2 linked regions of the Homo sapiens genome follow. The protein of the gene in region 1 purifies or fractionates together with the protein of each later gene. This does not show direct contact. Each region holds a gene or a part of one and is shown on either strand. Other genes may lie near its edges.

Evidence for each region. The genes of interacting proteins can lie anywhere in the genome.
Region 2: the proteins of MMS22L (region 1) and PINX1 purify together in Homo sapiens (co-immunoprecipitation; one large-scale study listed by IntAct). This does not show direct contact.

Annotation. Positions count from the first base shown.
Region 1 is NC_000006.12:97,280,417-97,284,649, forward strand, and holds the start of MMS22L (protein MMS22-like), read right to left. Parts: upstream 2,801-4,233; 5' UTR 2,680-2,800; exon of another isoform or gene 2,571-2,679; intron 2,138-2,570; 5' UTR 2,062-2,137; coding exon 1,898-2,061; intron 947-1,897; coding exon 821-946; intron 1-820. UniProt on the Homo sapiens protein: Component of the MMS22L-TONSL complex, a complex that promotes homologous recombination-mediated repair of double-strand breaks (DSBs) at stalled or collapsed replication forks.
Region 2 is NC_000008.11:10,826,376-10,829,875, forward strand, and holds part of PINX1 (PIN2/TERF1-interacting telomerase inhibitor 1), read right to left. Parts: intron 1-3,500. UniProt on the Homo sapiens protein: Microtubule-binding protein essential for faithful chromosome segregation. Mediates TRF1 and TERT accumulation in nucleolus and enhances TRF1 binding to telomeres. Inhibits telomerase activity. May inhibit cell proliferation and act as tumor suppressor.

The DNA.
Region 1 (4,233 bases):
CCGCCTCCTGGGTTCAAGCAGTTCTCCTGCCTCAGCCTCCTGAGTAGCTGGGATTACAGACGCATGCCATCACGCCTGGCTAATTTTTGTATTTTTAGTACAGAAGGGGCTTCACCATGTTGGTCAGGCTGGTCTCGAACTCCCGCCTCGGCCTCCCAAAGTGCTGGGATTACAAGCATGAGCCACCGCGCCTGGCCGTCCTCATCGTTTTTAAAAAGCACATATTTTTAAGAAATTCATACTGAAGTATTTATGGGTGAAACGACATGATGCCTAGGATTTCCTTACAAATACTTAGGCCAAAAGAAGAGGAGACAAGACAGATGAAGGAAATGTAATAAAAAGTTGTTGTTTACTGCAACTGAAGGAGGGTATATGGATGTTCATTATATTATTATTTTGTGTATGCTTAAAATTTTTCATTAAAAAAATTTTAAATGTTGTCCAAATAATTAATATTTCTATTACACAGTCTAAACAATTTATTTGTTAAGACCATACTCTAAAGATCACTGAAAGACTATGGCTATTGCACAACAAAAATATTTTAATTTTCTTCTAAAAATTATAGTTCAAAGCCTTAAATATTTGTCAATACATGTGTCAAATGCAAAGAATAAAGATTCTGAAAACGCAACTCATTAAAACCATTACTCATCAGGCATTGCTGCTTGATTATTGTTACTGGTAAGATAATCAAGTGAGCAACCAGCACAATTCCTCTGGTCTTTTGTAATATCAGTATTAGAAGCCACCCAACAACGTAATTTACAAAAGTGAACAACACCTACACTCACAGAAAGTTATAACGAAGAAATACCTGAATAAATGAAAGAGTTCTCTAGATGAATTCACTAATGCTGTTTCAGTAACCCACTGAATGCCAAATATTTCCAAGGTATCTTCTTCAAAATTAGTTGGTAAAGGGTCAAGATTCAAAATCAATCTGAAATGAAAATTGTTTCAATCTCATAAAAAGTATACTAAGTACCATAATACGACGGCTCTTTTCTTTACATTATTTGAATCCATATTATACATGACATGTATAAAAAGTCAGAAAATGCCTTGGTACTTTACACATTCAAGATTACAATAGCTAGACTGTATTAAAACGTCAATCTTCTATATTGATAAAATGTACGACTAAAGTGTAATGTAACTTAAGAGGAAAAATCAACAAGAATTCTAAAAAACATATTTCTGCCTGTCTTCACCAGTAGTCTTCAGTTGTAGAATTTCATCCTTTGAGGGGACATTTAATTTTAAAACTGCTAACAGTTATTCTGAGCCATGTCTGGAGAATAGTATCCAACTAATGAAGTTGAGTATTCTATTTAAGATTTCTAACAAGGTACAACTATAAGGTCAACAAAAATAGTTTCCTCACTGAAACTGCCTCAGCAGGTATTACCAAAATATTTCAAGAACAGTTTTACTGTAATATATATGTACCTGCCCAAGGCAAAATAAGTCTATACACTTCTATATGTGCAGGTAGGATTAGAAGGAACAGGGGCAATAAAAAATGTTTGTCTCTCTTAAATATTACTGGAAAGCTCTAGAATATTATCACACTCTTTAGAAGGAAATACTACTGCAAAAGGCTCAGATAGTTAGGAATTCATTTTAAGTAGAAGAAAAATTAGTGCCCAGCTCCCTACAGTAAGGGAACATCAGTTACCAAGGAAGTTTTCCCTAATACCCCAAATACTTTAGATATGCCCTTACCAAGAAGCCAGCAGAACTGATAATCATTTGTACCCTTATGATATACTAAGCTGATTTATAAAACACGACTTGGTGAACACCAAAGTTTAATGGGCTGAAATAACTAACATTCCTAAAAAACTGGTGAATAATCAGATGAGGGAAAATGTCTCTGAGTTTTACCTACCGCTTAAGGGCTCCGCTGCAGAGGTAGGATTCTCCAGAAAAATGTTTTCCTCCTCCTCTGTTGTCAACAGCACAAGAAAAGTAAGGAGGTTTGCACCATTCCGTCCCCAGCTCCAGCTCTAAGCTGTCAGTCAGGAACGTCGATGCAGCAGAACAGTTCTCCATTGTTTACTTCATGTTCTGAAACACTTGGGGTTCGTCGTATCATTAAGGGCTCCAAAGAGAAGGTGTGAAGAGATTCCTGTTGGGGGGGGGGGGGTGGGGCCGAGAGAGTGGGGATTACTTCAGAAAGTTCTCAAGACGTCCGCCAGCAGGAAGGAAAAACAAACGAACAAACCCAGAGGCCAAATTCCCAATTCCCCCTCGCCCTCCGTCCATCAAGGCTGTCAGAACTTAAGACAAAATGCACAACCAACTGGCTGTGGCAGGGACCTCGAAATCCGGCCACTAAGTCGGGCTCTGCAGCCCAGGACAAGGTGAAAAGCAAAGAAATGTCTGCAGGACATAGCGTCCCGGGCTTGCCTAGAACTGCGCCCTCCGCAACGTTTCTAAACCACTCTCCGCCCGTTTCCCAGCAGCAGGGTGGAGAACGCTCCCTCCCCGGCTCGGGGTGGAAATTAGGAAAGCAACCCCTAGGGCCAACCCCGACCCTCCAAGGAGGAGGCGAGACCCACCAGGCCCACGCCTGGCAGCACTCGGGCGGAGAAGGCGGGGTGCCGGTATCCCGCGTACCCGGCTGCAGCAAGGACCCGGGGCGTCGGTTACCCGCGGTGCCTGTCGTACCCGCTCACATTTCCAGCTCCCGAAACCTGCCTCCTGTGACCCAGACCACCAACAGGAATCTTTGGGGTCTAAACCGCAAACAGGCGAAATTCCCGCCACCGCGCGCCCGCGCTCCGGAAAGGCGGGGCCACGGCGCAGCCCTCCCCCGGCTACCAATCGCCTCGCGATATCTGCGCGGAAACAGTCGGAGCCCCACGAATTCTCGCGAGAGTCCGTCAGTCCGGGACGAGGTACTGAGAAACTTTTTTTTTTGTACCTTTAATTGGTGCGTTCGGCTGAAAGGCGGGGCCTGGTAAAAAAAAAAAAACAGAACTGCTGCTGAGGCGGAGGAGAGGACTTAAGGACTATGGGTTTATCCTCTGGCCGGACCAAAGAGAAGATATTTACTCCAGTGAGTGCGAAGTGAGTGCCTCGTTCACACCCACAGTCGCGCCGTCCCCTCTTCCCGCTCTGGGGCCAGCAACTCTTGTTAGAATGCAGATGCCTTTTGTCCATGGACTGTGAGGCAGGCAAGTGCAACAATTAATTTTCTCTGTAACAGATGGAACAAGTAGACAGAAAATTAGTATGGATATGGAAAACTTGGAAAGCACTAACCAACTTGACCTAATTGACGTTTATAGGTGACCAACCCAACAATAGCAGAATACACACTCCTGTCAAGTGCACATGAAACATTCACTAAGCGATACCATATTCCGAGCCATAAAACAAATGTCATCAACTTTAAAAAGATTTAAATCGTACAAAGTGTATAGTCTGATCATAATGGCATTAAACTAGAAATAAAGTAGATACTTGAAATACTCTAAATATTTGGAAATTAAGAATCATACTTCTAACTAACCTGTGAATCAGGAAAAATCACAGGAAAATTAGAAAATACGTTGAATTAAATTAAAATGAAAACACTAAAATTTGTAACAGTACCTGCTTACATTAAAAAGAAGAACTCAATTCAATAAACTTTTGTCTTAAGTAACTAGAAAAAACCCCCAGCATATTGAAACCAAAGCAAGCAAAATGAATGAAATGATAAATAGTAGAAATAAATGGGATGAAATAAATGGAAGGAAATACATGCAAAAGTTGTTTTTCTAAAAGAGCAATATAATTGATAACCCCCCTACCCAAACTGATAAAGAAAATAAACAAATTATCAGTATCAGGAATTAAAAAGGTTTCATCACTATGAAATTTAGTCATTAAAAGGACAAGGATATTAAAAGAACATTATGAACATTTTTATGCCAATAAGCATAGGTGAAATGGACAAATTCCTTAAAAGACGCAAACTGTCAAAAATCAACAAAAGAAGAAAATTTGAGTATCTCTGTATTTATCGTAGTACTCAGAATCTTTGGTTAAGCCTCCCTCCTCTCTCTCTGCACACACACACACACACACACACACACACACACACACACACCACTTCTTACAAGAAAACTTCAGGCCAGGGCAGGCACAGTGGCTTTGGGAGGCTGAAGTAGGTGGATCCCTTGAGACCAGGAGTTCCAGACCAGCCTGGGCAACATGGTGAAACCCTGTCCCTTG
Region 2 (3,500 bases), on another chromosome or scaffold:
CTCTGCAACAGCACCCTTCTGCTGGATCTCTGTTTTCTTTCTAGGAGTCAAATGATTAGAAATATTTCCTTAATTTGCATACTATGGATCAGGCCAGGCTGCCCTCCAGAAATTTAGAAAATCCTTGAGGAAGAAATGGAAACTTGTGTTCACACAAAACCTAGACACAAATGTTCACATTAGCCTTATTCATCATAGCAAAATACCAAAAATCACCCCCAAGTCCTTCAACGTGTGAATGCATGAACAGCTGAGCAACCCCTGGGCCATCCTTACAGTGGAATACCACTCCACAGTAAAGAGCGGCGGCCGCTGCCACCGCAATGGCCAAAACAAACTCCAGGGCATTGTGCTTAGTCAGAGGTCCATCTACAAACATAACATATGACTCCATCTACAGAACATTCTCGACATGACAAAACTACAGAGAGAGAGGACAGATGAATGGTTTCGAGGGGACAAGGATGAAGGTACAGTGGGTACAAATACAAAGATGAGGCATGAGGTTGCTGTGCCGTGGTGGCCAATCCTGTATCTTCACCATTGTGGTTGCTGCATGAATCTGCACTTGTGATAAAATTGCACAGAACCATCCGCCCATGTACAAATGAATGGAGACCAAAAAAAGATGATGAAAACTGGCTAAGGTTTGTGGTGCAGTTGACAGTAACACCAAATGTCAACTTCCCGGTTGCGAAAAGCCACAGCAATGTAATGTCTCTCCACCCTGGGAGAACAGGGGGAAAGACGTTCAGGACTCTCTGAATTATTTTGCGAATTCCTACAAGCCTGTAATTATTTCAAAATAAAAAGTTCCTTTAAAAAGTAAATAAAGGTAAGACAGGTTAAATGATCACCTAAATACAGATCAGAGATGACGATTAGGTGACGCATGGAGGAGCAGCAATAGCTCCAAGCCACCTTTTCAGGGTTTCGGGAAGGACAACTGGAAGGGCAAAAGGAGCAGGAACACACCATTGAGGAAGACATCCGAGTGGTAACGCCTTTGACGGAAGGGAAAATGTGAGCCAGAAAGTAGGTCCTTGCCTGAAAGGTTGATCAGAGCAGGTTGATCTGGGGTTAGAGTCAATTATAAATTAGCTAGCCACCTGCATTCTCTCACCTGTATCTGCTTGTCAAGTTCAGACAGAAGAGTGCCACAGAAACGATCATAGGCAGAAGAGAGACTAAATTTTCCTACAGTTTTAAGAACATTCAGATATGAGGTTAGAGAAACTGGAAAAAAAGCAGCCGGGCGCGGTGGCTCATGCCTGTAATCCCAGCACTTTGGTAGGCCGCAGCAGGCAGATCATGAGGTCAGGAGATCGACACCATCCTGGCTAACATGGTGAAACCCCGTCTCTACTAAAAATACAAAAAAAAAAATTAGCCGGGCGTGGTGGCGGGCACCTGTAGTCCCAGCTACTCAGGAGGCTGAGGCAGGAGAATGGCGTGAACCTGGGAGGCAGAGCTTGCAGCGAGCCGAAATCACGCCACTGCACTCCAGCCTGGGTGACAGAGCGAGACTCCATCTCAAAAAAAAAAAAAAAAAAAATCCAACAAACCAACCTTCTTCAGAGGATATAAGAGAAATTGGAAAAAAAGAAACTCTCACCCTGACAGTGGAGCGAAACAAGCACGTGTCCATTCAACAACATGTGACTGCACTGCAACCCCTCCCAGGAGTCACTTATTTCAAAGGTATAGTTCCCTATGGGAACTATACAGCAGGCTCGAAAGAACGTGAAGGCAGATGTTCCGCACTTGAGGCAAAGCCCAGCACGGGCTCATTATTTCCACAAGCTGAAACATTCTCTTCTGCAGCCACTTCCCAGGGACACCTTGGATTTTTTGCAAAGACATCCTACCAGTAAATTCTTCTCTTTTGCACTTCATATGGCACATAACATTTTCAATGCTGATGTTCCAATCACAAATCACAGAGGAAGTTATCAGCTTAAAGCGGCTCCTACCGACTGCAAGTGTATGAGGGACGAGGCGCTGGACTGGAGGCTTTCCATGAATTCTTGGATTTCCTTCCCACAGCCACTCCATAAGAGAGCTGCTGTGATGCCTGAACTCACTACAGAGGACGACACTGATAAGGCACACCCAGGAAGCCCCCGCGATGGGACCGAAGCCCAGGCAGACATGACGCAGAGGCCACATCCTGAAGCACCACGCCGTGCCCTCACAGAGCAGCTCTCTCAGCCTTGAGAGGGCAGAAGAATCACCTGGTGAGCGTCTCTACCTTCTCAGCATGCAGGTATCAAGAAGGATGCGTGAGCACCGCCAGGCCTTGAGGAATCACTTTCTATCTATTTGTTCACGTGCACTCATGCCTGAAACTGCTCGGAGTCTGACTTATGCACCAATCTGGCCGTCCTTTCCCGGGTATCCCCTCCCACTTTACAAAGGAAAGGCACAACTTTCCTCTTACCGGGATCAATGAGGGACAAGGGAAAATACTGTTGTCAAAGCAGCAATCAAAGCAGCTGGCCCGGCCCTCACACCCCTACGCTAACCCAGCTCATCAGGAGGTGCACTGCCAAAGAGATGTGTTTAATAAGCATTCATTAAAATGTATAACAGATCTGCTAATTTTATTCACTGTGATCTACTAATCATGAGGGTAGGTGCAGTGGCTAAAGCCTGTAACCCCAGCACCTTGAGAGGCTGAGGTGGGTGGATCACAAGGTCAGGAGTTGGAGACCAGCCTGACCAACATGGTGAAACCCCGTCTCTATTAAAAATACAAAAATTAGCCAGGCGTGGTGGTGTGCACCTGTAATCCCAGCTACTCAGGAGGCTGAGGCAGGAGAATCGCTTGAACCCGGGAGGCGGAGGTTGCGGTAAGCCAAGATTGTGCCACTGCACTCCAGCCTGGGCCACAGAGCAAGACTCCATCTCAAAAAAAAAAAAAAAAAAAAGAGAGAGAGAAAATAAAACCCTAGATTCTTTATGAAATCCTTCAGAGTAAAGTAAATTTTCTGGCCTTAATCGTGGTTTATGGCTCTAGATTTGCCAGCCACACTATCAGGAGGCTTACAGTGCTGAGTATCTCTGCTTGCTTTTCTTAGATGTTATAATGCATTTAGTCCTCACAACAACCTTCCAAAGATGATACTACTGCTTCCATTTAACCAAAGAGGAAATCGAGGTACAGCCATGTTCAGCAATTTACCGAATGTCATACAAATGAAAAGTCAGACCAGGATTAAAATCCAGGCAGTCTAACTCTGGTGTTTGTCTCTAAACCACTGCATTCTATTTAATCTCCAAGTCTTATATGTTCATGCTTACATTCTTACATTCTTTTTTTTTTTGGAGATGGAGTTTCACTCTTGTTGCCCAGGCTGGAGTGCAATGGCGTGATCTCGCCTCACCACAAACTCCGCCTCCCAGGTTCAAGCGATTCTCCTGCCTCAGCCTCCAAGTAGCTGGGATTACAGGCATACGCCACCACGCCCAGCTAATTTTGTATTTTTAGGAGAGACAGG